Homo sapiens: one gene and its partner. The protein of the gene in region 1 interacts with the protein of each later gene in a biochemical or structural test. Each region holds a gene or a part of one and is shown in the gene's direction. Other genes may lie near its edges.

Region 1 (3,748 bases):
CCCTTCAGGTCTTTTGCCAAGGCCAGCTCCATCCCAGGAAGCACACATAGCCCCTGGCAGTGGGACCTTAAGTGTGGATGAAATTGGGGGCTGTCAGGAAGGGGCGCTCTCATCACTGACACAGTGGGCTGCTTCCCGAAGTGTGGAATCTGAAGCGAATAGGTGTGGTTTAGGGAAGCCATTGTCATGGACGGGTCCCTCCAGAGCCAGGCCCACAGAGACTCAAAACCCCACCGTGCTGTGTGATGTTTGGATCTCTGTGCCTGGGCCTTGGTCTGTAAAAGCAGGATCACTTTCCTAAGGCTGCTGGGAGGATTACTCGATGTAGGTGAAGTGTTGAGGGGGGAAACAGAGAGGCAGAGACTTGCTCCAAAGCATGCAGTGGTGGGTTGGGTGCCTCCTAGCAGAGAACATATGGGCAGCGAACCTGTTCTCTTGTCCCCGACCAGGGTCAGTGCCAGTGGCGGCAGCCCCCCGGGAAAGAGATCTACCGCAAGAGCAACATCTCCGTGTACGAAGTTGATGGCAAAGACCATAAGGTGAGTGGGTGGCCAGGGGTTGGGAGAGGCCGGGGAGGCCCTGGGCACCTCCCAGATGATCCTCATCACCACCAAAGGGGAGGGGGCAGCCTTAGCTGAGCCTCTATGGGCAGAATGCCTCTGAGGGGCCGGGCACTGCAGCTCACACCTGTAATCCTAGCACTTTTGGAGGCTGAGGTGGGCAGATTGCCTGAGCTCAGGAGTTTGAGAGCAGCCTGGGTAACATGACGAAACTCCTCGACTAAAAATACAAAAAATTAGCTGGCGTGGTGGTGCGCACCTGTAATCCCAGCTACTCGGGAGGCTGAGGCACAAGAATTGCTTGAACCTGGGAGGCAGAGGTTGCAGTGAGCTGAGATTGTGCCACTGTACTCCAGCCTGGTCGTCAGATTGAGAATCTGTCTCAAAAAAAAAAAAGAAGGCCTCTGAGGGCCTCCTAGCCTGGCACTAGGCCTGTAGTTGGTGCATAGGAAACACAGGGCCTTGTGGTGGCCCCAAGACTCTTCTGCTGGTGGGGTTAGGTTCAAACTTGGGTTGTTCTGGAACCCAGAGGAGATTTTCTTGCCTGAGGCTGCTTTTAGAAGTGCTCTCTCCTTCCGTTGGAAAGAAAGGTGTTTGTTTTTGCCTGGGAGGGGACTGCTTTGTGTGAAATTTCCTCCTGAGAGAGCTCTGTGGCTTTCAAGGTTTGAGTTCCTTGTTCCTGGCCCCGAATGACTTCAGCAGGGCAGGTTGGGGCCTTTGGGACCTGCCTAGCTGTTGTAGAGAACTTGGCCTTTGCCTTATCAGTCTGGGAGGGTCTGGCCAAGTGTACTGGTTTCCCGCAGATGGGCCATACAGCACAGGACAGAGAGGGCAGGCTTCAGGGTGGCTCATGTTGCCTTGTCACTTCCTCACTGACCACAGACAAGTTACTTAACATGGTTTGTTCCTGTTTCCTTGTCCATAAGACGGGAGTCATAATATTTAATATTTACCTAGTTGTGTTGTTAGTGGAATAAATGAGACAGCAAATGTCAAGTGTTTAGTGCAGTGCTTAGCACTAGTATGTGCTTAATAAACACGGGCCTTGTTATTATCGGTGACCTCTTGGGGCTTGATTAGCCTTGGACTCGGAGAATACGCAGGCTGAGCCCAGCCCTTGCCCCTGCTCTGCCTTCCTGAGCATGGCTGTGTGGAATAGCAGAAGGGCCCCCGCTGGAGATGTGGGGGTGCTTTCCAACTGCGCTCTGCCAGCTTTGAGGCTCTGGGCAAGCACTTCCACTCTGGGAGCTTCAGCTTCCTCCTGAGTAAGATGGGCCTGGCAGTGCTGGGCTCGCACAGCTGCCGGGTTGGATGAGAGAGTGGCTGTGGTGTCATAAACCAGGGAGCCCCTTAGTGTGTGCCGTGAAGCCAAACTCGGTCCCATTGTCCCCCTCCTGGAGTGCAGCCAAGTGGACAGACAGGGCTCGAGGTTCCTCCATTCAGCAGACGTTTACCAGGCACCCAGCTTCATACTTAGACTCGTGCTAGGCGCTGGGGACACAGCCATGAACAGGACGGTCTAAATTCCTGCCTCGGAGCCTCAGTTTCACGAGCTGAAACAGAGTTAATGTCTGTGAAGACTGAAGCAGATCCTGCATGGAAGGCACCCAGCTCGTATTTGGCACTCAGAAGGGGTGGCCGGGCTTCATCCAGCTCCACTGGCACCTCCGAAGTGCTGTTGCTCTCTCATTTCCAGTTCCCTGTTCGTCAGAGGCTGACCGAAGACTCCTTCCAGTGTGAAATCCTTCTGGCCTGGCGAGGCGCCCACTTCGCGTGGGCTGGTGCCGGCCGCTGGAACCAGCTGGGTGGGGCCTGTGCCTGCCCCCTGAGCCTGTCTCCCCCCTCCTCAACCCTAGATTTACTGTCAGAACCTGTGTCTGCTGGCCAAGCTTTTCCTGGACCATAAGACACTGTACTTTGACGTGGAGCCGTTCGTCTTTTACATCCTGACTGAGGTGGACCGGCAGGGGGCCCACATTGTTGGCTACTTCTCCAAGGTGCTGGGTCTGGAAACTCGGGGTGGGGAGGGTGGGGAGGGCGAAGGTGGGCATGAACAGAGAGTGGGGCAGAGCCTCCCCAGCGGCCCTGAGCACCTGCCTCCTGCAGGAGAAGGAGTCCCCGGATGGAAACAATGTGGCCTGCATCCTGACCTTGCCCCCCTACCAACGCCGCGGCTACGGGAAGTTCCTCATCGCTTTCAGTGAGTGGTTCCTGGCCTGTCTGGGAGGGGGAGACCTGTGGGGCAGGGGTGCCAGGGCAGGCTGGATCCTAAGTTCCTCTTTCTACTGCTGCCAGGTTATGAGCTCTCCAAGCTGGAGAGCACAGTCGGCTCCCCGGAGAAGCCACTGTCTGACCTGGGCAAGCTCAGCTACCGCAGCTACTGGTCCTGGGTGCTGCTAGAGATCCTGCGGGACTTCCGGGGCACACTGTCCATCAAGGACCTCAGGTGAGGGGGCCTCCCGGGCCCTGGGGGCAGGACTTGCCCTGAGATGGGCCACGATCCTGCTTCCTCATACCCTGTCACCATCCTGGCCAGATCCCACAAGGGCACCAGGTCTGGCATTTGCTCTCATCCCTTTTTGCAGCCAGATGACCAGTATCACCCAAAATGACATCATCAGTACCCTGCAATCCCTCAATATGGTCAAGTACTGGAAGGGCCAGCACGTGATCTGTGTCACACCCAAGCTGGTGGAGGAGCACCTCAAAAGTGCCCAGTATAAGAAACCACCCATCACAGGTGGGTGGGGGGCTGCTGTGTGTCGGGGGCGGTGGGGGAGTGTCAGTATATGGACTGGTAGGAGTCAAGGCCTCCTTATTGCTGTCACATGATCCCAAACCAGTCAGACCAGCTCCCAGGATGGAGCCCGGGGCAGGCCTCTCATTCCTGGGCTTCCCTACCCCTCCCCAGCACAGCCTGCCCTTTTGTTCTCACCTGGAGGAGGTGAAACTGGCCTGAGCCCAGAGGAGGGCAGCCAGGTGTGAGCTGGCCTGGCCCAGGCCCAGCCCTGCCTCCCGCCCCTTCTCCCCACAGTGGACTCCGTCTGCCTCAAGTGGGCACCCCCCAAGCACAAGCAAGTCAAGCTCTCCAAGAAGTGAGCAGCCTGGCCCCTGCTGTCGGACCTGAGCCTCCTGGCTCCCAGCCTGTAAATATGTATAGACCTGTTTTGTCATTTTTTTAATAAAGT
Region 2 (3,748 bases), on another chromosome or scaffold:
TGGCACCTCCCAGGCCTTGGTCCCATTTATGAATGCAACAGGAAACTGTAGGATCCTAACTGACAATACACTTTCCGATCATTAGCTAGTGTGATTTTTGCATCCATTGAAATTGGTTGTCAAAATAAATTTCTATTGTGAAAGATACAGTATTTGTGTTTGGCATTTAAAAATACATGGAATTGCAGTTTATTATTTCCAGTAGCACCCACACTACACGTGAAGATCTGTAGACATAAGGGTTGGTGAAGTATAAAATGCGAGTTTACCGGATGCTTTTGTTTCACCTAGCATTAAGCAGTTCCTCTGACTGTAGTGAAAACAAGGATGAAGAAATAAGTGAAGAAAGTGATATTGAAGAAAAGACTGAAGTGGTATAAAGTTTTTATTGTAAAAACTTTCTCTTTGTTATATATTTTAGTGGTAAAAATTCACAGTGAAATACTCCAGTTGTGAATTGTTTTCTAAAGATACATCTTTTAAACCAATAATGTAAATTTTTATTTGACATTTAAAGAAAAACAACCCTTATTTATAGTCGCCGTATGAGTCTCTCAGTGGCTCTTTATGCCCCTAAAATGTTTCCACAAATTATAGTTATCTTTCTTTCCAGTCAAATTATTTGTTTTATAATGATTAATTTTTTAATGGAGCCTACAGACTGTGATGTCTTCTGCCTGCATCCAAAGTTAATATAAATCCGAGTGGTAAACTGAAATGGGAAAGAAATGAAATACATATTTGCATTGTGTTTAGTGCCCCCAAACAAGTTAACTTTTGGCCTTTAACATACTTTTAATTAGAACACGTGGCATACTATGATTGTTGAGGATTAGCTGGGTTTGTTTCATAGCAGGCCTTCCTTGGATATTGACTCTTCTACTGTTTTAAATAGTTAAAAATGGAATTTTGATATTGCAGAAAGAAGAACCAGAGCTTCAAACAAGAAGGGAAATGGAAGAAAGAACAATAACTATAGAAATCCCTGAAGTTCTGAAGAAGCAGCTGGAGGATGATTGTTACTACATTAACAGGAGGAAACGGGTATGTAGGGAGAATGTATAAAACATTAATTTGTTTGGCATTTTCATTTTGCCATAGTTTGCAATCATAGACGTAAGCAATAGCGAATCTTGGTGGAACGAAATTTATATTTTTCAGCTTTGTATTGAGTCAGGTTTTAAAGTTCTCTGCCAGTGGTGCTGTGCAGCTGATAAAAATTGAAACTCACACAGCTCTGGCTGCCCATTAGGGTTGTGTTGGGAGCTTTCCAGAATGCTGCTGCTTGTGCTTCAGCCCAGAAATTAAGAATTAATTGATCTGTGGTGGAGTCCAACTGCAGGTATACTTGAAGAAGTTCCCCAGGTTGTTCTCACAGATCACTGAGATTAAGAATCACTGCTTACATCTATTCAAAAAAGTAATATTGTAATCTACATAAGGTTATGATCAGTAGAGAAAAAAAGATCAAAGAGATTGCGAACATATTTAAGAAGTTCTATTCAAACAGAATTGGCTTTGGTTTATTTTTGAGTTAAAAAATGATACAGACATGACCAGTGTTTCTTGGAATATGTGGTTTGTTACATTAGGATGCATACATCAGATGTCTATGTTTTTGTTAACAGTTAGTGAAACTTCCATGCCAGACCAACATCATAACGATTTTGGAATCCTATGTGAAGCATTTTGCTATCAATGCAGCCTTTTCAGCCAATGAGAGGCCTCGTCACCATCACGTTATGCCACATGCCAACATGAACGTGCATTATATCCCAGCAGAAAAGAAGTGAGTACTGGCATGTTTGGTGTTTTGTGGTTCTCTCTGTATTAGAGAGGTGGCTTCCATTTAGAACAGGTGACACTTGTCTCTATTCCGTTATTTTGAATTCATTTAATATTTAATAATTTATTGATAATTCATTGAATCATCTAATATTAAAACCTTGTCACTTTTGTGAAATCTTCAGTACTTCAATAACTATTTACACATCTTACATGGATGCATTGAAAGTGCACTGCCTCAGCACTGAGACAGTTTTTTCAGTGATACTGTTTAGGGCGAGAACTTTCCTTGAGAAGCACCAGAATGGGCAGTGAGGATTTCTCAAAGCTTGTTTACAAACAGGTTTTCATTCCAGTCAGAGAAAGCTTCCTTGTATCCTGCCTGGTACACATGACCCAGCTAGATGAGAGGCAGAAAGGTGGAGTGTTGGAGTTAAAGCAAGGGTTAGGGATTCACTAGGGTCAACCCGTTTCAGCTTGCAGTGATAGGGGTGTGTCCACCTGTCCACTTTTGCAGCACAGGCTGCTGGACACCTCGTGTGGCCTCAAACATATTTATTTGTGTTTAATGGGGTAAGTTAAAGTGACTGCTGTATTTTCTGCACTTTATGTTTTCCTATGTAATCTTGACAGTAGCTACAAATCCATTTCATTTTGTGTGTATGTAGGTGTAGTATATAATGATTAGATTTAAAACTGCCCTATTAAAAATCGGCAACTTCATTGTGAACATTTGGAAAGTACCTCTTACTTGTGTCTCTAATCTCTTCTTTTTAATCCTCCCAGTGTTGACCTTTGTAAGGAGATGGTGGATGGATTAAGAATAACCTTTGATTACACTCTCCCGTTGGTTTTACTCTATCCATATGAACAAGCTCAGTATAAAAAGGTGACTTCGTCTAAATTTTTTCTTCCAATTAAGGAAAGTGCCACAAGCACTAACAGGTAAGTTATATAGCCTGCACTTTCACCCTCACATGTCAGCAGTACAATGATCAGATCCTTGTTTTGAAGAGTTCAATCTGATGGTGTGGGCCAACATGTTTGGAGGAGGGAAGGAAATGAAAAGTGTGTGTCCTGGTGGTTTTCTTTTTTCCTGGGTAAGCTAAGTCATCATTCACTTTCATATGGCTCTGGCAGATTTTACCAAGTGAAGACCCCAGCATAGAGAACTTAGGTGGGATGATGAGCAGCTCTCCCATTTTGGGGAAGACGGTAGTGGGTGGGGTGAAGAGAGCACAGGCCGGGGAGGGTGGAAGGGGCAGGTTTGAATTGAGTCCCCTCACTGGCTGTTTGTGTTAGTTGCAGAGGTTTCTTAGGAGCCTCCTTCTTTTGCAGGTGTGGGATGGACGGAAGGCAGGCCTAGCTAGTAGTATTAAATGGGAATGTTCACACAGGGCCTGCAAACTTTGGCCTTCAGTAAAAGTTACTTCTCTTCTTGCTCTGCGATGTCACCACTTTTCCTCCCTCAGTTACCGAGCATGCTCTGTTCTTTTTTGAGGGGGCAGGGAGGGGGATCCTGCAACCTAAAGTCTTTCCCTTAATCTCTATAAGGTATTGTGCTCGCTCCCTCTTCCCTCTCTTCCTGAGAGAGTGGTCTGTTCTCATGATTTCCACTCATCTGTCTCCTCTGTTAACCACTTATTATCTGCCTTCATCTACTGCTGTGCTGCAAAACTTTGCCTGCACGTGAACTGATAACCTCCCACTTGCAGTGTGCTGCCCTTTTTCTCGGCCACCTTGCCCTGCCCTCCCTTTCTCCCTCTGCTTCATGGCTGTCAGCTCCCCAGCTTCTCTTTCCGCCTGGCCGCCATCTCCTCTCAGCCATCCTTCCTTTGGTAGCTTCTCTCTCTCCTTTCCCTTTCCCCATGTCAGTTTCACCCCAGGTGAGAGGCCTGCAGGACTCACTGGGGACCTATGTCAAAGTCCCCAGGGCCTACTTCAAACCTTGAGACTCCTCCGG

What was found. Proteins that work in one complex are often made in the same cells at the same time.
Region 2: the proteins of KAT8 (region 1) and MSL3 form a complex in vitro, tested with the Homo sapiens proteins (one study listed by BioGRID).

Annotation. Positions count from the first base shown.
Region 1 is NC_000016.10:31,127,601-31,131,348, forward strand, and holds part of KAT8 (histone acetyltransferase KAT8), read left to right. Parts: intron 1-449; coding exon 450-539; intron 540-2,416; coding exon 2,417-2,557; intron 2,558-2,666; coding exon 2,667-2,760; intron 2,761-2,855; coding exon 2,856-3,006; intron 3,007-3,145; coding exon 3,146-3,300; coding exon of another isoform or gene 3,301-3,392; exon of another isoform or gene 3,393-3,594; coding exon 3,595-3,659; 3' UTR 3,660-3,748.
Region 2 is NC_000023.11:11,761,209-11,764,956, forward strand, and holds part of MSL3 (MSL complex subunit 3), read left to right. Parts: intron 1-291; coding exon 292-374; intron 375-921; coding exon 922-1,044; intron 1,045-1,628; coding exon 1,629-1,789; intron 1,790-2,571; coding exon 2,572-2,730; intron 2,731-3,748. UniProt on the Homo sapiens protein: Non-catalytic component of the MSL histone acetyltransferase complex, a multiprotein complex that mediates the majority of histone H4 acetylation at 'Lys-16' (H4K16ac), an epigenetic mark that prevents chromatin compaction.